Homo sapiens: one gene and its partners. The protein of the gene in region 1 interacts with the protein of each later gene in a biochemical or structural test. Each region holds a gene or a part of one and is shown in the gene's direction. Other genes may lie near its edges. The genes, in order: CSPG4, DLG2, HTRA3, PDZK1, SIPA1L2, FRMPD1 and PATJ.

Region 1 (4,130 bases):
AACCAAGTAAGGGAGCTGGGATTTGAACCCAGGTCTCTCTGGTTTCAAGACCAATACTCATAACCCCCACATGGACCAGGCACCATCACACCTGAGCACTGCACTTAGGGTCAAAGACCTGGCCCCACATCTCAGCAGCTATGTAGACTAGCTCCAGTCCCTTAATCTCTCTCAGCCTCAGTTTCTTCATCTGCAAAACAGGTCTCAGTTTCGTTGCAAAGTATGAAGTGCTGGGCTGTTACTGGTCAAAGGGAAGAGCTGGGAAGAGGGTGCAAGGTGGGGTTGGGCTGGAGATGGGCTGGAGCAGATAGATGGAGGGACCTGAATGGAGGAAGTAAACCAAGGCCCGGTAACATTGGGACTGGACAGAGAACACGCAGATCCTCTAGGCACCGGAAGCTAAGTAACATTGCCCTTTCTCCTCCTGTTTGGGACTAGGCTGATGTTGCTGCCTGGAAGGGAGCCAGCAGAAGGGCCCCAGCCTGAAGCTGTTAGGTAGAAGCCAAATCCAGGGCCAGATTTCCAGGAGGCAGCCTCGGGAAGTTGAAACACCCGGATTCAGGGGTCAGGAGGCCTGGGCTTCTGGCACCAAACGGCCAGGGACCTACTTTCCACCTGGAGTCTTGTAAGAGCCACTTTCAGCTTGAGCTGCACTTTCGTCCTCCATGAAATGGGGGAGGGGATGCTCCTCACCCACCTTGCAAGGTTATTTTGAGGCAAATGTCATGGCGGGACTGAGAATTCTTCTGCCCTGCGAGGAAATCCAGACATCTCTCCCTTACAGACAGGGAGACTGAGGTGAGGCCCTTCCAGGCAGAGAAGGTCACTGTTGCAGCCATGGGCAGTGCCCCACAGGACCTCGGGTGGTGCCTCTGGAGTCTGGAGAAGTTCCTAGGGGACCTCCGAGGCAAAGCAGCCCAAAAGCCGCCTGTGAGGGTGGCTGGTGTCTGTCCTTCCTCCTAAGGCTGGAGTGTGCCTGTGGAGGGGTCTCCTGAACTCCCGCAAAGGCAGAAAGGAGGGAAGTAGGGGCTGGGACAGTTCATGCCTCCTCCCTGAGGGGGTCTCCCGGGCTCGGCTCTTGGGGCCAGAGTTCAGGGTGTCTGGGCCTCTCTATGACTTTGTTCTAAGTCTTTAGGGTGGGGCTGGGGTCTGGCCCAGCTGCAAGGGCCCCCTCACCCCTGCCCCAGAGAGGAACAGCCCCGCACGGGCCCTTTAAGAAGGTTGAGGGTGGGGGCAGGTGGGGGAGTCCAAGCCTGAAACCCGAGCGGGCGCGCGGGTCTGCGCCTGCCCCGCCCCCGGAGTTAAGTGCGCGGACACCCGGAGCCGGCCCGCGCCCAGGAGCAGAGCCGCGCTCGCTCCACTCAGCTCCCAGCTCCCAGGACTCCGCTGGCTCCTCGCAAGTCCTGCCGCCCAGCCCGCCGGGATGCAGTCCGGGCCGCGGCCCCCACTTCCAGCCCCCGGCCTGGCCTTGGCTTTGACCCTGACTATGTTGGCCAGACTTGCATCCGCGGGTGAGTGAGGGGCCTGAGACCCCGACCCAGCCTGGCGGAACTAGAGGGGTTCCTCCGGGAGGGAAAAGGGACAGGAGGAGCCAGAAGTGGCCCCCAGATCGGGAGTCAAGCAGGCTGCGCTTCTCCCACCACTAGCTGGGGTCGCCAGGGGTTCAATCCTGGGGCGGACACGGGACCCCGCTATCTCAGGTTATGGGGTTTCTAGCTAGCCAAGGCTGTCCAGTTAGGGGCGGGAGCAGGCGCCCCAGGCATGGATTGCCTAGGGCGTGGCTTTGCCCGTTTGGATTGTCTGAGACACCAGTGGGGCCACCCCAATGCTGGCCGAGCTTTGTTTGCCAGGCAAGTTTGGGGTGAGTATGTTGGGGTCCAAAGGGACCCGGCGACAGTGAGAAGTGGGTCCTCCAGCTTCAGATGCCCTGGGCCAGGAATGGGGAGTGCTACAAGGTGGGAAACGAGGAATGAGCCACCCTGCCCTCCCCTGTGAGGAGCACCCCCACACCCCTCCAGCTGCCCCCCAGCTCTGCCCCTTCTTTCCTCCCCTTGCTTCCTTGCAGATCCGTCTATCTGCCACCTCCCCTCTTCATTCTCTCCTCTCCCTCCTCCTGTTGGTGACAGGCAGGACCCCCCACCCACTACCCACTCTCAGCCTCCTAGAGGGAGAGCTGGTGCCCCTCAGCGGGGCTTGTCCTACAGATAGCTCTGGACCACCCCCTGCCACACCTCCTCATCCCAGCACTGATGCCTGACCCAGCAGAGGCTGAATGGAAGTTCGCTTTCCGAGAAGTGCTGGGATATATCCCCTCTCTGTCCCGATGCCAGAAACCCCAACATGACAGCATTCTTCCTTCAGCGAAGGCAGCTCTAGTTATGCCATAAGAACTGTGGCCTTAGGGCCCATCCATCATCACTACCCACGTGTGATTCAGTGCTTCAGCTACACCTTCGAGATCATTCCCAAGAGCAACATGGAGCAAAGGCAGGGCCTGAGCCTCCTTCACAAGGGCCCAGGCCACACCCTTCTCTCCTTCAGATGGAGAAGCCAGCTCTAAAAGAGGGCATCACATGGTTCCCAGAAGGGAAGTGAGTCAAGGGAGGACCCCCGCGGGGTGAATCAGGGCTGGATCTCCAGGCTCCCTGTTCCTGCAGGGACCAGATCCCCTAAGATCTCAGGGCCTGAGGGATGGGCTGGGCCGCCAGGGAGATGGGAAGGGAGCATCCAAGGTGACCAGGGTGGTCAGCTCATTCAGGCCCCAGCCTCCAGCCAAGGAGGGATTCCAGTACCCCCACCTCCTTGGGCTTCAACTGAGAGCCATTCTCAAATACCTTCTTAGCCCTGACAGCATGCAGGCATGGTGCTAGGCTCGCAGGGGCACGGGAAATTGAGAGGCTGAACTGAGACTCATTCAGGAGGCAGAAAGGCAAATTAAATCTCAAACAGCAAAAATCTGGATGAAAAGTACAGAGGGGAGAAAAGCAGGGGCAAGCTGGGGCAGGACACAGGGTGGGCCTCAAACCAAGCCTTGGTGGATGGGAAGGGAGTCAGTCCTCCAGGCAGGGGCGCTGACTCAGAGGCACCAAGGTGGGCGTAAGCAGAGGGGTGTTGAGACAGGAAGGCCAGCAGCCTGGCTGGGAGGCGTATTTCGAGCACAGGCCAGGGAGAACCACTGGGCTGGGGCACAGAAGCCTTAAATGGCAAAATGAAGCCCACGGCCTTATGCCCTGTTGGCAAAGGAGATGCCACAAGGGTTTTAGGGCAAGAGAGCAGCATGGTGCTGTGGGGTTTTATAAAGTTACACCATCCCCTGCCTTTAGGAGGACTCGGAAATGAGGAGGGGCTGTGAGAGCTCCCGTCCAGCAACCCATCTCTGTCACCACTCCTGGTCCAGCTGCCTGCCCTGATTTCTGCAGTAGGGGCAGCCCCTGCCTGAGGAAGGCGTCCCTCCCACCCCTCCTGGATGCCCCTGGCTGCAAAGGCCCTCGTCCTCCCGTATCCGAATGAGGCGTGCTGGGAGGCTCTCCCTCTACTCATCAACATTTGAGGCATCCAGGTCAGGGGGCCTGGCAGTCAGCACCCTAGAGGCCATCTGGGCCAATCTTCCACTTGTATAGAGAGGGAAACTGAGGCCCCAGAGAGGAAGAAAAGTACTCTGAGTTCCACCAAGAACCCCAGCAGCCCAGGAAGAGCCCCCAGCCCTGCTTCGAGGGTGCTCCCAGCCTGCGTCGGGGCCTAGGCTTGGGCCACTGAGACAGTGTGGGTGACAGATGCGGTGTCCAGCTCCTTCTGAGCTGTATGGGAGGCCCCAGCAGAGAGCCAAGCATTGGGGGAGATTGGATTTGAGCTGATACTGGAAGGACAGGCAGAGAAGGAAGGAGGTGACATTCTAGTCGGGGGGTCACAGTGAGCACAGGGCAGGCAGGGGTGGTGGCTCCCACACCTCTTCCCTGGCATCACTGACTGAAAGGCAGAATGTGAGGGGTTGAAGTGGGACCCAGGTTGGGGAGTACCTGGCAGGGAGGGCTTGTGTGTTACCTGGGTGGGGACTCAGAACTGATGGGGGTATCTTAGTGAGCAGGGCCACAGGGACACCAGGTACAAGAAATTGAAGCAGGGTAGATCCT
Region 2 (3,500 bases), on another chromosome or scaffold:
AAGCCCCTCAAGGCCCGCAAAGTGCCACAAAGACATGAATTTTCTCTCCTTCATCACAGTGGCTTTTTCTCTTTCCCTTTGTCTCTTCCTCATTACCCATAGGGCTTTTCATTCTTGGACATGGAAGTAAAAATTAGTTTAAGATGCTGAATTCACAGCAATTATGTCATGCCCACCTCCACGGGTTTCCCCACAGGCTTCCTGGGTATTACACAGTACCTGATTGCCACAAGGTCTTGAGAATTGGGGTGGCCCGGACATAAGGGATGCTGCCATTGCTGTCTACCAACACTACTGCTCTGAACCAGAACCAGAACCAGTGCCTTTCATAGAAAAGTAAACCAAGAAGTGATGGATAGACAGAGATAGAGAACTCTTGAACAAAATTAATCAAAGCTATGCTTTGCCCTAGTTGTCTGAATCGCAATCATACACACTGACATCAAATATCTTATTAAAGATTTGCCTTTAGAACGTTCCATCAGAATGATTTGCAAAGCCATTGGGAAGAGATTTTTATGGGAACTTGATGTGCTCTATTTATTTAGAGAAAACGATGCTTTCCAAAGTTAAATGACCATATTGACAGAAACACAAAATAGAACCTACCGTTGGCCTCATCACTCATCCTGTTTCCCATGACTGAAATCAGAATGCAAATTTGTTGACATCTTTCTTTATGTTAAGCACTCAATGGGGCACTGGAGACATGGTGATGAATAAAACTCAGTTCTCGCCTTTATGAAACTCCCAGCCTAATAAGGAGGTCCAAGAGTTACCTGACATTTAAAGCTTTTGTTATCCCATGGTCAGAATTCTTCCCTTGCACATTAATTGTTGAAGATTTCCCCTGTAAAGTTATAGTCTAAAATTGCAATGTTAGTCTACGATGCTTCTATCATTAAAACTATACTTTCTCCCCAAGAATTTTTACACTTCTTTAATTGACCCACAGCATTTTCCTGATGAAGTAATACTAAACTAAAACCTTGAATGCGTATACCCTCTACATCGCTCAGGCTTTAGATAACTGGGGGTTAGTAATCAATCACCTTCATGTTTTTTGGCCTAGGCTCTGTACATTTCAGTAGTTTATTCAAAGGGAATCATTCTTTTCCTGAGTACAAGAAATAGTGAATCTGACTCCTCACTGACCAAACCCCTGACCAATGTGGCAGAGTCCCCTGAACACTTCTGGGGTGGCCATGGGTACATACCACTTAGGAGGAGCATCAAGGTCCACTCTCTGTACCCTTAAGAAGTAGCTTGGCATGGTGGCGCCATTCTGAGCCCAGGCCCTCCTTGGGACTGAGATAAGATATGACTTCAGCCTGAGGCCATTTCTCACACTTGAAAAAGTAAGACACTCCTATCCCCATCCCATTCCAGCTACCCAGCCTCCAAGGAAGTCATCCAACTTCGCAGCTATACCCACATATTGCTCAATTTCCCCAAATCAGTCTCATTATCAAAACAGTCGATCATATTAACTCTTCTTATGAAATTACCTCTCTTTCTGTGGTGCTGTGGCTGTTGAAGGAGGAAAACCTGGCATTGATAGACTATGAATGTGCTTCAGGGGTGGGTGGTGAGGATATACAGCAAAGGTGAATTGCCCTTTGGTTTCAGAAGTTACCTCATATTCCACTTCTGCTCCACTATTTCTTCTAGTAGACAGAAAGTTCTTTTCAACAGCCCTAACCTATTGCTGTTCCAAAGGTTAGTCAATGCAAAAAAAAATGCAGACACTTCCGGGTTTGCAGGTGAAATTGAGCTAATCCTCTGACCAATTAATTCATCAATTATATAAAATAGATGATTGAAAAAATAAATGGCAAAAACCAATTTACTTTCTATGGTTATTTGTTGACTTGAGGTCCACCCTGAGTCAGAAGGCTTGTAGCAGATGACATTGGAGGGGCTGACATTTTACTACTGTGTCTTCCTTAGTTCTCTATCTGAAGTTTCAACGCACAGTTTAGCAGCAATTATAACCAATGATGTAGGACACACCTCAATTTTTGATCTTCATTAATTGACCCACAGCATTTTCCTGACGAATTAATATTAGAGTAAAACCCTGAGTGTCCTGATGAAGTTTTTATATCATAAATGAAATAAGCATATACTTGCTTTTGAACAGTGTGCTTCTTGGGGAAATAAAATAGAAGATGAAATAAAAGGTACAGCAATTCTGATTATGTAGCAGCCATCTATTGAATTGGACCCTTTCCTTGAACTAAATGGCTTCCTTTTAAGTAGTAATGCTTGGTGTAGAGGCCATGGCATTCCATTCTCAATGCCAGACAGAAAGAAGTCTCACAGGTCATTGCCCTGCAGCAAATAGCTAGCAACCAGTTATTACTTAGAGTTATGACTGTGAAAATCTGATACTAAAATGGTGCTAAAGAGTTTTATGAGGATGAAGTTATTTTTGAATGGTTCAAGGAGAAAGAGCAAGGAGAATTAACTCTGAGCTGTGTCTGTTTCCTGTGTTTCAGAGCAGGGCTTGTCTCTGTAATATATGACTGTTAGTTCACTGTGGTTTTCTTTCCTTCTCTTCTCAGGAGGACAAGAAGACCTCATTCTTTCCTATGAGCCTGTTACAAGGCAGGAAAGTAAGTTTCCCAGCACGCTTTCATTCCTAATTTCTGGGCCATAAGAGGTGACATCATTGAAGGAGGGAAAGAGTGAAGGACTAAGGAGAATAAACTCGGCTTAATGCTCTGTTGTCTTGAGACCGTACCTTACTCTTACGCTGTCTCTCACTTTCTCTCTCTTTGACCCTATCACCAAACAGACAACTTCCTGCTGAGTATGGGCACTAATAGCACCTAAGAGAAGGATGCAGCCCTCCAGATGAGTGGTCCTCAATGGGAAGGAACACATTCAAATTACCTAAAGAGCACTAGCTACGAGACTGGTGAATAAATTCTCCTGAGAGACTGATGTCAGCTCAGTATTGAGAATGACTTTCTAGCAGATCTGCCTAAGATGTAGGCTATCTGTAAGCTGCTGCTTTTTCCTGGAGGCATTTATACAGAGGCTAATTGCTACTGACAAGGATACTGCAGAGAGAATTCAAGCATCAGATGGGGACTTGTACCCAATGAACTCTCAGGTTCCTTCTAATCCCAGATACAAGGAAATCTAGAAACTGTAGCAAAGTATAGAGAGTATTTTGATCTGGGGAAAAGAAATCATGAAAACATAAGATGTTATTACTACTAACAATTACTTTTTATAGTCATATCTAAACAATAGCCAAACAGCTGGTTTGGATTCTTTTTTCTCCCACTCAGTTGACTAAATTCAGTTGTTTTGACATTATGTAGGCAGAGCCAGAGAGTAAGCAAAACTCCTCCAAATGTTTCTTTTCATCAACAGATACTGCAATTGCCTTTCCCTGCTAGTAGATTCCAGAAAGTAGGCACTGCCAATCTCCTGAGTGTTAAACATCAATTTCCCTATGCAAGGCTGTATGAGTAATTTATCCAGTG
Region 3 (3,500 bases), on another chromosome or scaffold:
GACATTGCCACCATCAAGATCCATCCCAAGGTGGGTGGGCGTGGGTGGAGGGGCGGAAGCACCTGGGGCTGGGCATGGTGGCCTCTTCCCAGACGCCGGAACCCAGAGGCAAGCTAGCCCCACCTTCCATCAGCCAGGGGGAGGAAACTGGGCCCAGGGAGGACTGGCAGCTGGCCCAGGGTCACGGCTTGGAAAAGACCTAGAACCCAGGTCTTTGGACTCCTTGTCCTGCGCTCCCTGAGCCGCTAGGTGCAGGGCAGAGCCAGGAAGCATGTGGCCCACAGTGGGTGGGCTGTGGTCCCATATCACACCCCACGGAGGCTCTTCACTGTCTTACCTGGGCCCACTACTGGGGATGCACCTGCCCCATGGGATGGCATCTGGGTTTGGGCGTGGAGGCCAGGGGGCTGCCGTGGGGAACACTTGGGACAGGGACCCCATCCCTCCACCTTCACGTCTGTACCTCCCACCAGCTGACCCAGAAGAGGCCTGCACTGAGGCCCCCAGAATCCTCTTCTTCCTCCACCGGCTGTTTCTGGAAGGCCTGCTCTCAGCCAGGCGCTGACTGCACTCCTCTAATTCTCACCACAGGCCTGGGAGGAAAGGGCCTGTATGAGTCTGTTTTCACACTGCTATAAAGAACTACCTGAGACTGGGTCATTTATGAAGAAAAGAGGGTTCGTTGACTCAGAGTTCTGTAGGCTGTACAGGAAGCATGACCAGGAGGCCTCAGGAGACATACAATCATGACGGAAGGCAAAGGGGAAGCAGGGACATCTTCTCATGGCAGAGCCGGAGAGAGAGAGAGTGAAGTGGGACATGCCACACATTTTAAAACCATCAGATCTCGTGAGAACTCACCACCATGAGAACAGCATGGGGGAAGTCTGCCCCCATGATCCCATCACCTCCCACCAGGCCCGTCCCCCAACACATGGGGATTACAATTTGACATGAGATTTGGGTGGCGACACAGAGCCAAACCATATCAGGGACCTCATTATCTTGGGATTTCAGACGGGGCAACTGAGGCTTGGAAGTTAGGTAACTCGTCCAAGATCACAGCGCACTGGAGCAGGGCTGGCCCGCTCAGCTAGGACCCCGGCCTCCCTCCAGCTTGTTCTTGTCTTGCCCAATGCCATGCTTATGTGACCCTGGGGACCACAGTTGAGTTACTTGCAGCTCCCCATGCCATGAGGTCACTGAGTCCCATGTCTCACACCAGCGTTGGACCCGGAGCTTCCCTTGGACTGGGAAGTTCACCTTGGCTGGTTTGAATTTGGCTTCCTCTCTTTCTGAATGAACGTTTACAGCATTTGTGATGAAATCTTTTGCAAGGGGGTTTCCTCTTGCCCCATCAAGGGAGAGGAGATTTAATGGTTCCAAGGAGTTCCCCTAATGGGGACCCTTCCCTGCTTTTCAGACTTTTCACGGTCGCGATTGAGTCTGGGGGCATCACCTCCATTTTAAAGTTAAGGAAACCCACTGAGGGGTGTGCTCACGGACAGGAGTTGGCAAATTTTCTTTTCTTTTTTTTGAAATGGGGTTTTGCCCTTGTTGCCCAGGCTGGAGTGCAATGGCGTCATCTCGGCTCACCACAACCTCCGCCTCCCGGGTTCAAGCAATTCTCCTGCCTCAGCCCCCCGAGTAGCTAGGATCACAGGCATGTGCCACCACACTGGCCAATTTTTTTGTATTTTTAGTAGAGACGGGGTTTCTCCATGTTGGTCAGGCTGGTCTTGAACTCCCAACCACAGGTGATCCACCTGCCTTGGCCTCCCAAAGTACCGGGATTACAGGCGTGAACCACCGTGCCTAGCCTTTTTTTTTTTTTTTTGAGACGGGTTCTTGCTCTGTCACCCAGGCTGGAGTGCAGTAGCAGGATCTCGGCTCACTGCAACCTCCACCTCCCAGGTTCAAGTAATTCCCCTGTCTCAGTCTCCCAAGTAGCTGTGACTATAGGTGCATGCCACCACCCTCAGCTAATTTTTGTATTTTTAGTAGAGATGGGTTTCACCATGTTGGCCAGGCTGGTCTTGAACTCCTGACCTCAGGTGATCCCCTGCCTTGGCCTCCCAAAGTGCTAGGATTACAGGAATGAGCCACTGCACCCCACCCCCAAATTTTCCTTCCTTCCTTCCGTCCGTCCTTCCTTCCTTCCTTCCTTCCTTCCTTCCTTCCTCCCTTCCTCCCCCTCTCTCTCTCTTTTTTTTTTTTTCAGGGTCTCGCTCTGTTGCCCAGGCTGGAGTGCAGTGGCACAATCACAGCTCACTGCAGCGTCAAACTCCTGGGCTTAAGGGATCTTCCCACCTTGGCCTTCCATATAGCTAGGACTACAGGCATGCACCACCATACCTGGCTAATTTTTAAATTTTTGGTAGAGATAGGGTCTCGCTGTATTGCCCAGGCTGGTCTAGAACTCGTGGGCTCAAGCAATCCTCCTGCCTCGGCCTCCCAAAGTGTTGGGATTACAGGTGTGAGCCATGGTGCCCAGCCAACAAATTTTCCATGAAGCCAAATGGTAAATATTTTATCTTTGCAAGCCCTGTGGTCTCTGTCACAACCACGCATCTCTGCTGTGGCAAAAATGCAGCCTTAGGCTGCACAGGTGGGTGTGGCTGCGTTCCAGTGAAGCTTGATTCACAAAACAGGCAATGGACAGCGTTTGGGCCTTGGGCCAGTTTGCAACCCCCGCTCGAGGACCCCTGTGGGAAGAGGAGAGCGAGACTAGGGGCAGGTCTGTCTCCCCTTCCGGCGGCTGTGGCAGAATGCTGGCAGGACTGGTGGGGTGGTATCCAGGTGGGCCTGAGCAGGACGCCCCACCAGCCACCTGTGGCAAATGGGTGCCAGCAGAGCTAGTGTGATTCATGTCCTGCAGGCCCTGGTCAGCACCCATGGCCATGAGCTGAGGTGGGAAACGCCCTCCTAGCCCCTAGGCATTAAATCGAGCCATGGGAAAGGCTCCTGACCCTCACCTGTGCCCCCTCCTTGGGTGCAGGGAGGATGGCTGACCCTCCCCAGCTCACGGCCTCACCTGTGCACCCTCCTTGGGTGCAGGGAGGATGACTGACCCTCCCCAGCTCATGGCCTCACCTGTGCGCCCTCCTTGGGTGCAGGGAGGATGGGCTGACCCTCCCCAGCTCATGGCCTCACCTGTGCGCCCTCCTTGGGTGCAGGGAGGATGGGCTGACCCTCCCCAGTTCACGGCCTCACCTGTGCACCCTCCTTGGGTGCAGGGAGGACGGGCTGACCCTCCTCAGTTCACGGCCTCCCAGAGATTTCAGACGTTATTTCTGCCTCTTCGGCCGGTCAGCAATGGAAAATGTCATCTCTCCGGGCCCTCACCTTCCAATGTGCAGGCCTGGTTCCGCCACCTGGCATTCTCTCTGCCATTGACTGAAGCTTCTTGAGCACAGAGAATAGAGGAGCGGCCTGAGTCTTTCCCACACCAGCGCCCGCCCACCAAGGGCTCCCGTAATCCTGTGCGGGGCTCCACGTCG
Region 4 (3,500 bases), on another chromosome or scaffold:
TGAGGAACTACCTGCTTCTACTTGGGTGTCAAGGGTCAACTAGCAGCATCTCCAGGGCCAGATATTGAGCCAGATGGTCAGCATTTCCCTCTGGCAGTTGGCAGAGGGTTATTAAAGTTACCTTTTTCTTCTTCCCTCCTAGGTTGTGGATCTGGTCAGAAAGAGTGGGAATTCAGTGACTTTACTAGTTCTGGATGGGGATTCCTATGAGAAAGCAGTGAAAACACGGGTGGACTTGAAAGAGTTGGGTCAAAGTCAGAAGGAGCAAGGTTTGAGTGATAATATACTTTCCCCTGTGATGAATGGAGGTGTGCAAACTTGGACCCAGCCCCGGCTCTGCTATCTCGTGAAGGAAGGAGGCAGCTATGGCTTCTCTCTGAAAACTGTCCAAGGTGAGAATTTTTTGGGGAGCAGGGGGAGGCAGGGGCAGGGCACAGACAACAGGCTTCCAGAACAAAGATGCTACTGGTTAATGACTTTTCTTCTTTGACTGACTTTTCAGTTGCTATAGATAGCTTGCAACAGCTTGCCTCCCTCCGTCTCTCACTCCCTCCCTGCCCTTTCCCTTGCCTTGCACAGTTGTGCAATGGGGGAGGGACACTGGACAGCAGTGGGGGTGGGGGGCACTGGGTACTCCTGTCCCTGAGTGTTTGTCAGGCTGGCACTTGAGGACTCTTTGAGGTCAGGGGGCCAGAGGGTTGATGCTTCTAGCCCTCTTAGGGTGAAAATGAAGGGCAGAATAAGGAATAAAAGGCAAGAAAAATGAGATTCTTCATAATAGCTATTTTTGAGTAAGATTGGTATCTTTTTTTTATCTGAGTGCCCAGATAGTCATTCATTTATTCAACAAATTCTTGAGCACCTGCTGATGTGCCAGGCACTGTTACCTTTGCTGAGAATACCGCAAAAATTTCCACCCTCCTGTAACATTTTGATAGTACCCTCAGCTGCGGCTCAGCCCCACCTGTTCTGAGGCGCATCTTTGAGCTCTGGCTAAGAGGTACATAGTGATTTGAGAAACCCTGACCATCAGGAAGCACCAGAAGTTCTATTTCTAGAATTTCAGAGGTGCAGACTAACCTGTGTTCAGTTGACCGTGGCTCTGGGGTATTGGTTGGAACCAGAGGAGCTGTGTTAGCTGGTCAATTCCTTCTTGAACACTGCCTCTGCCTATGTTCTTTCTGGGGCTGGAGAAGCACTGGTGGTAGGTCATGATTTGGCAAGTGATACAGCAGCAGACCAGTGGTAAATTTAAAATAGTTTCTAAGGCTTATTTAACCTGTACCAAGAGATGTAAACTCACGATAAGGGGTATTTCTCAGGTCTGTCAGTTATTAAACACAGTGGTGTGTATAGTCAAAGGAAGCTTGGCACGTCTTAGAAGCCTATTATCAGTAAAGTGGTAAAAAAAAGAAAATCATAATTCAGATTCTACTCATCTGGCTCATGTGCTAATGCACATGGTGAATGGTTTAGGTTAGCTTTATGAGGAAAATGGTCTCTTCATGACAAATATATAACAAGGTAGCAGGAGAAATGCTGAGTGTTTAAGGAAGCAGAGTTTAAGTTATTGTCATTCCTTACAAGTGATTTATGTAGTCATTAGCAAGCGATCCCTTGCCTAGGTTGACATACAAGAGTCCCCCCTTATCCTGTTTGGCTTTCCATAGTTTCAGTTACCTTACCTGCAGGCAACTGTGGTCTGAAAATATTAAATGGAAAATTCCATACATAATTTTTGCATTGTGAACCATTATGAGTAGTGTAATGAAATCTTGTGCTGTCCTGCCCCGTCTTGGACATGAATCCTCTGTTTGTCTAGCATCTCCACGTGGCATGTGCTTACCTGCCTGTTAGTCTTACTACTTACTACTCAGTTACCAGGTCAACTGTCACGGTATTAAAGTACTGTGTTCAAATAATCCTTATTTTGCTTAATAATGGCCCAGCACAGAAAGAAAAATATCACATATTCTCATATGTGGGAGCTAAAAAAGGTGAATCTCATGGAGGTAGAGAGTAGAATGAGAGATACCAGCAGCTGGGAAGGGTATGTGTGTGGGGTAGGGTGGGGATGAAGAGAGCTAGGTTAATGGGTACAAACCCACAGAGAGAAGGAATAAGTTCTAATGTTTGATAGCACAGTGGGGTGACTGTAGTTAACAACAATGTATTGTACATTTCAAAATAGCTGTAAGAAGATTTGAAATATTCTCAACACAAAGAAATGATAAATGTTCAAGGATGGATGTCCTAAATATTACACCCTGATTTGTTCATTATATGCTCTTGGTATCAAAATATGACACACACCCTATAAATATGTACAAATGTTATGTATCAATAAAAAATAATAGCTCAGGCCGGGCGCAGTGGCTCACGCCTGTAATCCCAGCACTTTGGGAGGCCGAGGCGGGCAGATCATGAGGTCAGGAGATCGAGACCATCCTGGCTAACACGGTGAAACCCTGTCTCTACTAAAAATACAAAAAATTAGCCGGGTGTGGTGGTGGGCGCCTGTAGTCCCAGCTACTCAGGAGGCTGAGGCAGGAGAATGGTGTGAACCCGGGAGGCGGAGGTTGCAGTGAGCTCAGATTGCGCCACTGCACTCCAGGCTGGGCGATAAAGCAAGACTCCGTCTCAAAAAAAAAAAAAAAAAAAGCCAAAAATGCAAGGATAGTGATGCTGGCAGTTCAGATATGACAAAGAGAAGCTGTAAAGTGGCCGGGCACAGTGGCTCATATCTGTAATCCTAGCGCTTTGAGAGTGCGAGGCGAGTGGATTACCTGAGGTCAGGAGTTCGAGACAAGCCTGGCCAACATGGCGAAACCCCATCTCTACTAAAAATACAAAAATTAGCCAGGCGCGGTGGCAGGCGCCTGTAGTCCCAGCTACTCGAGAGGCTGAGGCAGGAGAATCGCTTGAACCGGGGAGGCAGAGGTTGCTGTGAGCCAAGATTGCGGCCCTGCGTTCCAGCCTAGGTGACAGAGCGAGACTCCATCTGTTAAAAAAAAAAAAAAAAAGGCTGTAAAGTGCTTCTATTAAGTGAAAAGTTCTCGATTTAATAAGGAAAGAAAAAATACTGTATGCTGAGGTTGCTAAGATTAGCTCAGTTATTGTTAATCTCTTACTGTGCCTAATTTATAAGTTAAACTCTATTGTAGGTATGTAAGCACAGGAAAAAACATATAGGGTTCGGTATACTATCTTAAAGTTTCAGGCCTCCACTGGGGGTCTTGGAATGTATCCCCCATGGTTAAGGGGGAACTGCTCTATTAATATCTTTGAAGAATTGACAGCATTTCTATAAGTAGCACCTAAATCTCACCACCTAAATGCATTCGGGTTCTTCCCTCCCTCCTGTGCCTGTCCTTGTTAGCCTACATTGGTGAGATGACTCCACAGCATACGATGGCTAATATAATAGTACAAACTGAAGAGGAGAGAATGGTAAAGATGCTTTCTGATTCTACAAATGCAAAGAAAGGGCGTATGACACA
Region 5 (3,500 bases), on another chromosome or scaffold:
TTACAAATCCTTTTAAAGACACACTGAATTTGAAGAAAATTTAGACTAGGGTATTGTTAATTGAAAAGCTGCTTTTTTTTTTCTTTCTGTTTTGAACTTCAATGAAATACAAAGTACAGTCCTAGAGAATAGTGAACCATGTTCTAGGTTTTCTACTTCTGTTAATGTGCCTAATTCATTTGCAGAGTGAGAGTAGAAAAAGCTTTAGGCACAGACAGGAACCTTGAGCTTCCTGCCTCTACCACCTGTCACAAATGAATTTGGATGAAACTATTTTCATGATCCCTTTCAGCACCAAAATTTGGGGTTTCTTTAAGGTTTAAGACGAACGCATTAGAGTAATGAAAATGCCTGTCTGACTGGGATGTTTATATTTTTCATGATTATGTCATTTCTTTGCCTTGGCCTATAGTAAGTTTGTATGTGAATGCTTTGCATGAGGGTCATAGCTACTTGGTTTACCTTGAAATCAATGATTCAGAAATTGCTTTTTGTGTTCCAGTTGCATGTAGCTGTGACTCCTTTTAAAAGTGTGGTAACAATGTGGTAGGAATTTAAAAGCTTCCCAACTTTAGACATAGATTATTTTGATCCTTTCTGAACTGGATTCATAAACTTTGGTTCCAAAGAACAGCAGCTGTAGAAGGGAGCCAGATCTTGACTCACTGTTGAGGTTCTGCTTCTTGAGAGATTTCATATTTAGTGCAACCCAATTCCTTGGTTCGTTCTTCTCCCCCAGTACTAGATAGCCAAGTTGGGTGGTAGGAAGGAAGAAAATATGCAGCAAGTCGAGTCTAGTTGTCATGCTCCTTTGGGCCAGAAAGGACCTTAAAGATTGTCTCGTCATGTTGTTCCTATACCTTTTGTTTTCGTCTACCTGTAAAATGAAAAAAAAAAAAAAAAGCAAATATTAGGGATTGTCAGATATGTCAGCATTTAATGTTGCTACATAAGTGTGTTTAAAATTGACAACAGCAGTTACTACCTATTGTCAATGCATTTCGTCAAAATCCTTTTGATGTACCAAAAAAGAGAAAAGGTGGGGAAAGGGGGAAGAATATGTATGCTGTCAGACTTAAAGGAGAGTTCTTCCTATCCAGAGAGGAGCTGTGTTAAAATTACCCCACTCGTGGATTTATATCTATCCCCACACAGACACTTTTTTCTTTTGCATGGGTCAATGAAAAATTCACTAAGGACCGGGGTTTAGAAATCACTGAGTAGCTCAACTAACCCTTCTTTGATATTTGGATCCTTTTATATAATCTCTGTAAGTGGTCTTCCGGTAATACCTGAACATTGCAAGTAACGGGTGGTGATTTCCACCTTTTAATGGTTTTGAGTACTAGAAAGTTTTTTGGCCTATAGAATTGAAATCTGATTCTGCTTGTTTATTCAAATTCTACTGCCTTGGTGGCCTACAGAACAAATCCTTCAGTCTCTGTCAGAGTTGGGCTCTTGGTGTAACGTGACCCGTGAACATGACCTGTGTAGAGTACAGCAGGAGTGTCTTGTCATAGGTTGCATGTTGCTTGCACTGATGTAGTCCAAGTTTGCATTTACTTTTCTGGTGGCCAGACTCAACGAGTTTCCTTTTCGCTAAAACCTGCCGAGCCGTTAATCACATGCTGCCATTGAACCTCGTCTTTCCATCTTGCGCTGATGTCATTGCAAAACCTAACATTTATTGCGCTGTGGTTTTGCTTTATTTTAGCTGATTCTTTCCATCATGCTTTTTAGAATTTGATTATATTATTTGGCACCTTTACCTGTCCTCCCAAAGAAATGCTGTCTGTACATTATTAGATCAGACTCTTTTATATCTTTACTTAAGCCGGTGATGAAATTGTTAAACTGGCTGAACAACACGAAGTGTGTCTCTGGAAGCTTCCCTCGAGGCTTACAAGGAGTCACACTCTCGGTTATAGTTAACTACTAATGCTCTTCATATCTTATAACTAGCCCATATAGCTCCACCTTTCCACATGGATATCCTGAAAGAGTGTGTCAAACCTCCTTTGCTGGTTCTACTGACCAAGTTATGCTGAGTAATAATGAGTTCATTTTCAGTGTGTCCCTAGTAACGAGCACTCTCTTCTGCATATGATTAAGAAAATGTGTTAAATGACTGACTGGATTGAGACACTAGGGTCACACTGTGATCTGTGACCTCCGGAGGCCTTAGGAACTGCAGTGCTTCTAGGAAAAATCAGAATATTGTTGGACTTTCTTCAGCTTATTTTTTGGTTTGGTATTCTCTTGTGTTGAATTGCTTTCAGATAGTGGGGAAGAACACCACAGTCTCTTCCGGTTTTGTTTTAATTGGTTGATATACTTCTCTTCCTATTTTACTAATAAACATTTAGCCAAAAGGGGTGTCTTGAACTCTGCCCATTAGATTACTCCATATTTTTCACTTCTACATATTTGCTTAATCTTCTGAGAAATATCCCCATTTAGTTGAGTTCCTCAAGAAATCAGAACAGTCCGAAGTAAGCTATCTGGTAGTTTATTCAAACTCTTAAGTAAAAATATCTAGGTAAAGAGCCAGTGTTAAAAATTGTTATTGTGGAAAGTAAGAACTCCTGGGTGAATAAAAGATTATGTCTGCTGAGATGAACTATTGTGTGGAGTTTTAAAAGAAAGTTCTGGTTAATGCTTAAGACATAGTGTCCTGTGAAGTCAGCATAACTACTTTCACTGTCTTCTGGAGGTGGTTTTGATAACACATTTGGTTCCTTGTTGAACAGTGGGTATTCACATTGTTCAGGAATAGCTTTGGGATACTGTCCTCTCCGTATTGAAGTTTCTAATAAGTAATTTTAGGAATTATAGTTTTGATTCTTTGTACAGGGCAAATGCTACCTGTTTCAGGTGTTTAAATGGCCTAATGCAAGAAACAGTGGTTTCTTTTTAGCAGGTTCTCAAGGTTCTCAAACTTTTTTCAACGTGCATCCCATCTATACACAATTGTCTAAGTGTTCATGTATGTATGCGTATACATGTATACATATCTGCATGCACGTTTGTGTGTGTGTATATGTATAATATATCTGTATGTATAAACATATACTTTACTGTGCTAAGATATTATGGACATAAAACAAATGTACATTTTAAGAAGATTAATATTAAAAATAAATAGATGTAGAAGTATTTTCTCTGCATCTCAAGGGCATTTGTATCTTTGAAATGTGTGGCCCCTGTGTAGAGACCACTGTTGTACTATCACTGGTTAGAGTTTATAGCAGTTGAGAAATGGAATTTCTAGGGAGCCTGTAGGGTCTTGTGAGGCAAGCGGAAGACAAACTCCACTCTTGATGGGCCTTATATTTACTGTGTATTTATTCTTTTTCCCGAAGACATTTCTGACTTTGGCCTGTTTTCTTCCAGAATTGCTTGTGGGTCTTGGTTTGGGGTTTCATTTATTGAGGGGTAGGAGGTTAATGTAATGGCGATGCTATTCTCCTTAGAAAGTTTCTAATTGAACTCAGCTGTTT
Region 6 (3,500 bases), on another chromosome or scaffold:
TAAAAGAACTTCTCTGCAAGGCAGGTAAGACAGTTTCCTAGGCCAGCTCCCAGTTTCTGCCAGGCTTTTGCCTCAGCACCATTGATGCAGCATGAACCTAGGGCTGTGCTGATAAATGCTTAACAACTCCCTGCAGAGGGACAAAAACAGTTTGAAGGAATTGCCCAATTCCATGGTGTCAACATTCTCACGATGGGTAATTTCAGGCTACCACGATATGATGATACCATGATGAATGTGGAGATGGGAAGAGGTGATCAATAGCACACCACTGTAGAGTGTTTCCTCTATATGGATAAAGTAGAAATCAGCTCAAGAGAATAGGTACTAATACAATAAGTAAAACAGTTAGAAAGTGATGAGTTTGGAGTATCTGTTACCTTTGTTTTTATTTTTATTTTTTTTAGAGGCAGTCTCTCTCTGTCACCCAGGCTGGAGTGCAGTGGTGCAATCTTGGCTCACTGCAGCCTCCACCTCCTGGGTTCAAGTGATTCTCCTGCCTCAGCCTCCCAAGTAGCTGAGATTACAGACACCTGCCACCACGCCCGGCTAATTTTTGTACATTAGTAGAGATGGGGTTTCGCCATGTTGGTCAGACTGGTCTCGAGCCCCTGACCTCAAATGATCTGCCCACCTTAGCCTCCCAAAGTGCTGAGATTACAGGCATGAGCCACGGCGCCCAGCCTGTTACCTTTGTTGTTACACAATGTATTTATGAACGAGGGGTGACTCCTCAGAGTCTGCTCAGGGAGACAACGCAGAGTGGCAACAGGGCTGTTGTGGAGGGGTTGTGGGGGGGACTGCTGCTGCCTGTCAGAGAAAGTTCTCTAGAGGAAGAGGTATTGGAAATAGATCTTGAAGAACATGCTGGAGTTAACCAGGCACGGAAAAGGAAGACAGATCATTCAAGGCCGAGGGGGCCTGGAGGAATGACCCGAGGAAAAGGCCATGACCTGAAAGGAGCTCTCCCTATGGGTGGCTGGAACGTGGCAGGGAAGGCTGCCATGGGGGACTGGGTGCCTGAGGAGGGGCTGGACCATATTGCAAGAGGGGAAAAGGGAGATGGTGAAAAGAGATAGGAGCCCCACCACGAGAAGGGCAGCTAGACTACAGAGGAGACCTCAGCGCCATTCTGTGAGGGAGACACTAGACTGAAGGGGAGGTGTCAAGACCATCCTGTCGTGGGTACTAGACTGCAGAGGAGGGTTCAGGGCCATCCTGGGAGAGGGGGAAGAGCCTGCAGAGGAGGCCTTAGGGCCATCCTTTGAGGCAAGGGAGGACTAGACTGTGCATGAGGCGCCATGGCCATCCTGTGAGAAGGGCAACAAGGCCATACTGTGAGAGTCTGTAACTGTTGTGGGGGAGGCCAGGCTCTTCCCCGTAAGCAGGGCAGCCATCAGAGGGTTTAAGCAGGGTGTGATGAGGTCAGAGAGAAGTTTGAGAAAGATCACTCTGGAGGCTTACAGGAATAAAGAGATTGCAACCTGGCTCAGTGCTCCCCAGCCTCCTACCATTAATCCTTCCTGAGAACCTGCCGCTGGATGAGTTTTCACTGTCCTACAAAGCCCATAGCACCCATGGATCCAGAAGGCCAGGCTTTAGAATGGTGCCAGCCTAGCAGCCTCGTACTCGTCATAAAATTGCTAAAAATACAGATTCTCAGGCCCCACTTCTAGCGATCTGACTCAGTACATCAGGGGTAGGGCCAAGGATCTGTTGTATTTTTAAAATATGATTCCCCATCTGACTTTGACGCCCAGGCAGGATAGAACTGAGGTCTGGGGAGGGGCTTAGCAAACCTGGGCAGTGCTGCCCACACAAAGAGGAATCAAAGTAAATACCACATTTCCATGAACAGACAGTTCTCCTTGGAGGTGGGGATGGAGTTAATCCAGCCTCCTTTAGCTCAGAGAGATGTGGGACAGGCGGTCTGATAGCATGGGGAGAACATGGAAGCTGGAGTCCCTCGGATCCCGTGTTCGTCAGTATAGGACGGTCTTAGGCCAGCCACCCTCTGGCCCTCAGTTTTCTCGTCTGGCAGGGTTGGGTGGGGGTCAGGGGGCTAGAAGGACACATAGGTAGGAGAATTCTGTTGTGTAACTGTTGCTGTACCCTGTGTTGCAGGCTATGAATCCAGGGCCTGCAGTGACTCAGAGGAGTCCTCTGAGGTGGACTGCGTACTCGAACCTCTCTCTGACAGGCGCCTGGTGAAACTGGCACCCTGCAGATCACTCATAAAGGAGGAGCAGCCTCCTGGGAACAGCCCCACACCTGAGGTGGCTAGGAGGGGCCCCAGCACCTGCGGGGCCAGCAGCACGACAGACAGTGCCGAGTCCGAGGCGTCCGACTCAGCCAACACTGAGAGCCGCGGCTACAGGACCAGTGGCTCGAGTGAGTCCATGGACGCTCTGGAAGAGGATGACTTAGACACCTGCTCCTCCAGCAGGTCCACCTTCTTCCACTTTGGCTCGCCAGGCCTCGCAGAGAGCATTGACTCTGACAGCCAGGAGGAGAGAAGCGGGATTGAAACCAGTGGCTTCCTCTGTCTCCTGGACCTGGCCCAGAGAGCCAACCCCCAGTGCCAGAAGACAGAGTTTTCCGAGAGTGCTGCTTTGGAGACATTTGGCTGGGCACCAGAACTGAGCACAGTCAGGCTGGACCCCAGGCTGTATGAAGGCAGCCACGCTGACTACTACAGCCTGTGTTCCAGTGTCTCCCCGGCCAGCTACCTGAGTGACAGTTCCGAGAGTACAGCTTCCCGGCAAGGGGGAGCCCCGCCAGCCTGGGGTCAGCAGGGCTGGACTGAGGCCCAGCCCAGTTCCATGCTGGAACCCCTGGCCCTGCACCCACCACTGGCCTTTGAGGATGGCAGCTCAGATGAGGAATACTATGACGCGGCTGATAAGCTCACTCCCCCAGGCCCCCCGTCAGGTGAGCCGTCCCTTGCAGGTCTGCAGACACGGCAGGCAGCTCCTGAGTGCCTCCCGGGGATCAAGGCCTGGGGCCAAGCTTGAGAGGAAGGCACATGAGTGAAACAGGGTCCCTGTACACTTCTGAGGAGGTAGATACAGATTCCATGGACCAAATTTTAGGCATCGTGGCAGGCCTGCAAGGGAGGTTCAGACAACTGTGGCAAGCAGATGGGAGGGATTCATCCAACAGTGGGAATCAGGGAAGGCTTCCCAGAAGAGGGGGCAAATGGGCTGGGCCCTGTGGGAGGGACAGAATTTACAAAAAAGGAAAGGGCTTGACAGGAGTGCCCGGCAGAGCGAAGTGGCTATGTCATCACTGATCCTGAGGCTGCATTAAAGGAGGCCTTGAAGCAAGAAGAACCAGACAGACAGGCCGTCTGTGGCCCTGCAAGGCCTTCTGGGGTCCAAGGGACCCTGACATCAGAAGGTAGGGGATCTGGTGGCTGTGTTTCTATCAGGTTCCTCATACATTCCTCCACCGAGAGTGTGGAGGGTCTTTCCAAGCAGAACTGAGATCCTGGCAGGACA
Region 7 (3,500 bases), on another chromosome or scaffold:
GCATGGAAATATTAGGTTGTGCCAATACTGCACTGCTGTATGGTATTAACAGAAATGGAAGCGGAGTGTTTATTTCTGACATCGTGAAAGGCGGAGCCGCAGACCTGGATGGGAGATTGATTCAGGGAGATCAGATCTTATCTGTGAATGGGGAGGACATGAGAAATGCCTCACAGGAGACAGTGGCCACCATCCTCAAGGTGAGTTGCTAGGCTGCTTTTTACCCAGCTGGCACAACTGAAGTCCAGTGGGAACTGTTCCAGTCTAGCTTGATTATAAAATGGGTTGGATTTTATACTAACTCTAGTTTTTACTAGAAATTTAATCTCTGATTATTTTAAATGAGCCAGAATAGCTTTAAAAGAAAGTTCTGTTATATTGACTAACAGAATGAAAGGGAACCTGCTTTGGGATTTCACAAGCAAGTTTTTCATACTTGTGAGAATTCTAAGTATCCATCACTGTTCTTTAAATGCATTTGATGAGATGGGCCCTCCAGGAGCCACAGAATTCATCCTCCTCTCTCTAGGGCTATGCCTGTTGCTTTCATTACCCTTTTATAATTTGTGGCTGCAGGGAGAGGCTCTGTTAAGATATTTCAGAATATAAATGCTACTACTTTTCATTTCTGTTCTTTTCTTGCCTTTCCAAGTGTGCACAGGGACTTGTGCAGCTAGAGATTGGAAGACTCCGAGCTGGTTCCTGGACCTCCGCAAGGACGACATCACAGAACAGTCAGGTTGTCGATGGCTTCTCATCAGACTGACTCACTCTTCTGCCCCCACTGGGAGAAAGTTCCCCATTTAATAAATGGTTGTTTGGAAATAATATCTAATGTACAGCATATTCACAGCACCAAGTTTAGTGAACTTTCATGTGTTTGAAATAAAAATGAAAGGTGGGATGGAAATTCATTAATCCCTAGATTTTTCTCTCCTTTATTGCTTGCAAATGTTTTCTTGGAAGCTCTTTTCTCTCTATTAGTTCTATATTGCCTATGCACGCATGTACACAGCTGTGTTTATTTAAAAAAAAAAAAAGGCAACATCTGGTGGCAATTTGACCCTCATTAGCACAACATTGTTCTATTCATTCAATTAAATATTGCTATAAAGTTAACTTGTGACTAGCCACTCACACATGCCGAGGGCAATTAATGGCATATTCCTAGGAGAACCAAGTGTGGGGGTTTTTCCTGTGGGAGGGAGGGCTTAGTGGGTGATATTTTGTGGGTTAGCAAACATCTTATATTTATTTGCAAAGCTGATGTAAGTGCCATTTTTTTTTAGCAAAGTATATTTCACTATATTTTTTTCATTGTAATGGCTGACAAAATCAAGATGGTAGACTGTATGGTTAGCCCCATGTGGTACATAATGAGACTATAGAAACTTATATGTGACCCCTAAGTCTCCTCTCTGGGTTATGGATAGGCCGCCTTAGTTTTGAGGTTAAAAGCATGACTTTTGGTCCCCTCCCTGGTTGCCTTATTTCTGAAGCCTCTCCAAGGCCTTTGTTCAGAAGGTGCTCTGATCTTACAGTTAGCACACAGTTACTTCTGGAAAGCTATTAGCTGCCTCCTGTTCCTCACTGGTGTTAAAAAATGAGTGAGGAAAATACCATTGTTCAGATAGGATTACAGACTAGCTGGCTTGTCTTAGGGAATCTTCAAAGCAGTCAAACCCAATAAACACCATATTAAGTTTGAAACACTTTTTTTTTTTTTCATTTCTGGCTTACATAATGGGCAGCAAATATCTAAGACATGGTGCTGCTGTAGGATTCCATGAGTTAATAGTTAGTGATGATATTGACCAGACTTATATCAACAAACGAAACAGTTGTCTAGCCAGGCTTCTTCCTTAATGGAAGACTCATCTTTGTTGAATGATTTCATTAAAGCCTTATTGTATACAGAAGATTAGAATGAAGCTACACAGAGGAGGTTCCATTGAATCTCACTCCAAATGGAGTTTGGGGAAAAGAAGGAAAAGGCATCTCAGACAGGGAAAATAGCATACACAAAGGCACAAAGAGGTAACAGGTGTTTGTGTGATTTAAGAAAAGTTTGGACTGATCGATAGGTAAGGTAGTGGATAGAAATGGATTTCTGTCCCTCTTGAGAGATGTATGTGAGCATCTTCTTATTTATTTATTTATTTATTTTTGAGACGGAGTCCCACTCTGTTGCCCAGGTTGGAGTGCAATGGCGCGATCTCAGCTCACTGTAATCTTCGCCTCCCGGGTTCAAGTGAGTCTCCTGCCTCAGCCTCTCGAGTAGCTGGGACTACAGGTGCCCGCCACCACATCCGGCTAATTTTTGTATTTTTAGTAGACACGGGGTTTCAAAACATCTTGGTCAGGCTGGTCTCAAACTCCTGATCTCAGGTGATCCACCCACCTCGGCCTCCCAAAGTGCCTGGATGACAGGTGTGAGCCCCCGCGCCCAGCCGCATCTTCATAATTTTTAAGTTCACACTCAAAGACAGAACTACCAAATTTAGAAGCTACATCATTAAATATCAAAAAAAAAAAAAACCTATCGTCTCCACTTACCTGGTATATGAATGTGAGTTGTCATATTTTGGAAACCTGGGACAAAGTATCAAATACTTTGCCCTAATCTTCTTACACAGAATTTTAATTTCAGAGGGTAGGAGTTTAATTCAATTTTTAAAAACAGTAAATATATCTTATCATCACCTTGTGCTTAAAATTATGGGTGAGATAGAAGAGTTTGCCCTATTTGGCTAATTAGAAGAAGGCTGGTAGCCGACTGTGAAAAGGAAATGTCTTCCCATCATGATGAGTTGAAGACTGACCCTGGTGGGCAAAAACAAGATTCCATTGCCAAACATTTTTACATCCAGACCCATTTAAAAAATCAGGATCTTGTAGGAACACAGATTTCCTTCTGAGCAGTTACAAAATAGGGAGATCAATGCCTTCTTTTGAGCGCTAAGGAGAATAAGCTCTTGACTTAATTCATAGAAAGTGAGTTCATTAAGAGAGAAATAACTTCTAGCTTTGGGGCCACCAAGTGTCTTTTTTTAAAATGACTTTCCCCCAAACCAGGAAGAAATTTCCTTACTCCACAGAGGAAAAAATACTTGCGAGATCTTTTCCTCAGCCAACTAAGGGAACACAGTCAGGCAAAGTGTACTTTTATAAACGTCTTGGGGCCGGGCGTGGTGGCTCACATCTGTAATCCCAGCACTGGGAGTTCGAGGCGGGCAGATCACTTGAGGGCAGGAATTCAAGACCAGCCTGGCCAAAGAGCCTGGTGAAACCCTGTCTCTACTAAAAATACAAAAATTAGCTGGGCATAGTGGTGGGCTCCTGTAACCCCAGCTACTCAGGAGGCTGAGGCAACAGAATCACTTGAACCTGGGAGGCGGAGGTTGCAGTGAGCTGAAATTGCACCACTGCACTACAGCCTGGGTGACAGAGGGAGACTCCTCAAAAATTACAATACAATGCAATAAAGGTCTTGGCAAACA

What was found.
Region 2: the proteins of CSPG4 (region 1) and DLG2 interact in a test that uses a peptide from one of them, tested with the Homo sapiens proteins (one large-scale study listed by IntAct).
Region 3: the proteins of CSPG4 (region 1) and HTRA3 interact in a test that uses a peptide from one of them, tested with the Homo sapiens proteins (one large-scale study listed by IntAct).
Region 4: the proteins of CSPG4 (region 1) and PDZK1 interact in a test that uses a peptide from one of them, tested with the Homo sapiens proteins (one large-scale study listed by IntAct).
Region 5: the proteins of CSPG4 (region 1) and SIPA1L2 interact in a test that uses a peptide from one of them, tested with the Homo sapiens proteins (one large-scale study listed by IntAct).
Region 6: the proteins of CSPG4 (region 1) and FRMPD1 interact in a test that uses a peptide from one of them, tested with the Homo sapiens proteins (one large-scale study listed by IntAct).
Region 7: the proteins of CSPG4 (region 1) and PATJ interact in a test that uses a peptide from one of them, tested with the Homo sapiens proteins (one large-scale study listed by IntAct).

Annotation. Positions count from the first base shown.
Region 1 is NC_000015.10:75,710,049-75,714,178, reverse strand, and holds the start of CSPG4 (chondroitin sulfate proteoglycan 4 precursor), read left to right. Parts: upstream 1-1,330; 5' UTR 1,331-1,423; coding exon 1,424-1,511; intron 1,512-4,130. UniProt on the Homo sapiens protein: Proteoglycan playing a role in cell proliferation and migration which stimulates endothelial cells motility during microvascular morphogenesis. May also inhibit neurite outgrowth and growth cone collapse during axon regeneration.
Region 2 is NC_000011.10:83,471,845-83,475,344, reverse strand, and holds part of DLG2 (disks large homolog 2), read left to right. Parts: intron 1-2,567; coding exon 2,568-2,618; intron 2,619-3,500. UniProt on the Homo sapiens protein: Required for perception of chronic pain through NMDA receptor signaling. Regulates surface expression of NMDA receptors in dorsal horn neurons of the spinal cord.
Region 3 is NC_000004.12:8,286,754-8,290,253, forward strand, and holds part of HTRA3 (serine protease HTRA3 isoform 1 precursor), read left to right. Parts: coding exon 1-30; intron 31-3,500. UniProt on the Homo sapiens protein: Serine protease that cleaves beta-casein/CSN2 as well as several extracellular matrix (ECM) proteoglycans such as decorin/DCN, biglycan/BGN and fibronectin/FN1.
Region 4 is NC_000001.11:145,683,369-145,686,868, reverse strand, and holds part of PDZK1 (Na(+)/H(+) exchange regulatory cofactor NHE-RF3), read left to right. Parts: intron 1-142; coding exon 143-392; intron 393-3,500. UniProt on the Homo sapiens protein: A scaffold protein that connects plasma membrane proteins and regulatory components, regulating their surface expression in epithelial cells apical domains.
Region 5 is NC_000001.11:232,623,634-232,627,133, reverse strand, and holds part of SIPA1L2 (signal-induced proliferation-associated 1-like protein 2), read left to right. Parts: intron 1-3,500.
Region 6 is NC_000009.12:37,737,954-37,741,453, forward strand, and holds part of FRMPD1 (FERM and PDZ domain-containing protein 1), read left to right. Parts: intron 1-2,124; coding exon 2,125-2,931; exon of another isoform or gene 2,932-3,399; intron 3,400-3,500. UniProt on the Homo sapiens protein: Stabilizes membrane-bound GPSM1, and thereby promotes its interaction with GNAI1.
Region 7 is NC_000001.11:62,116,480-62,119,979, forward strand, and holds part of PATJ (inaD-like protein), read left to right. Parts: intron 1-52; coding exon 53-200; intron 201-652; coding exon 653-739; intron 740-3,500.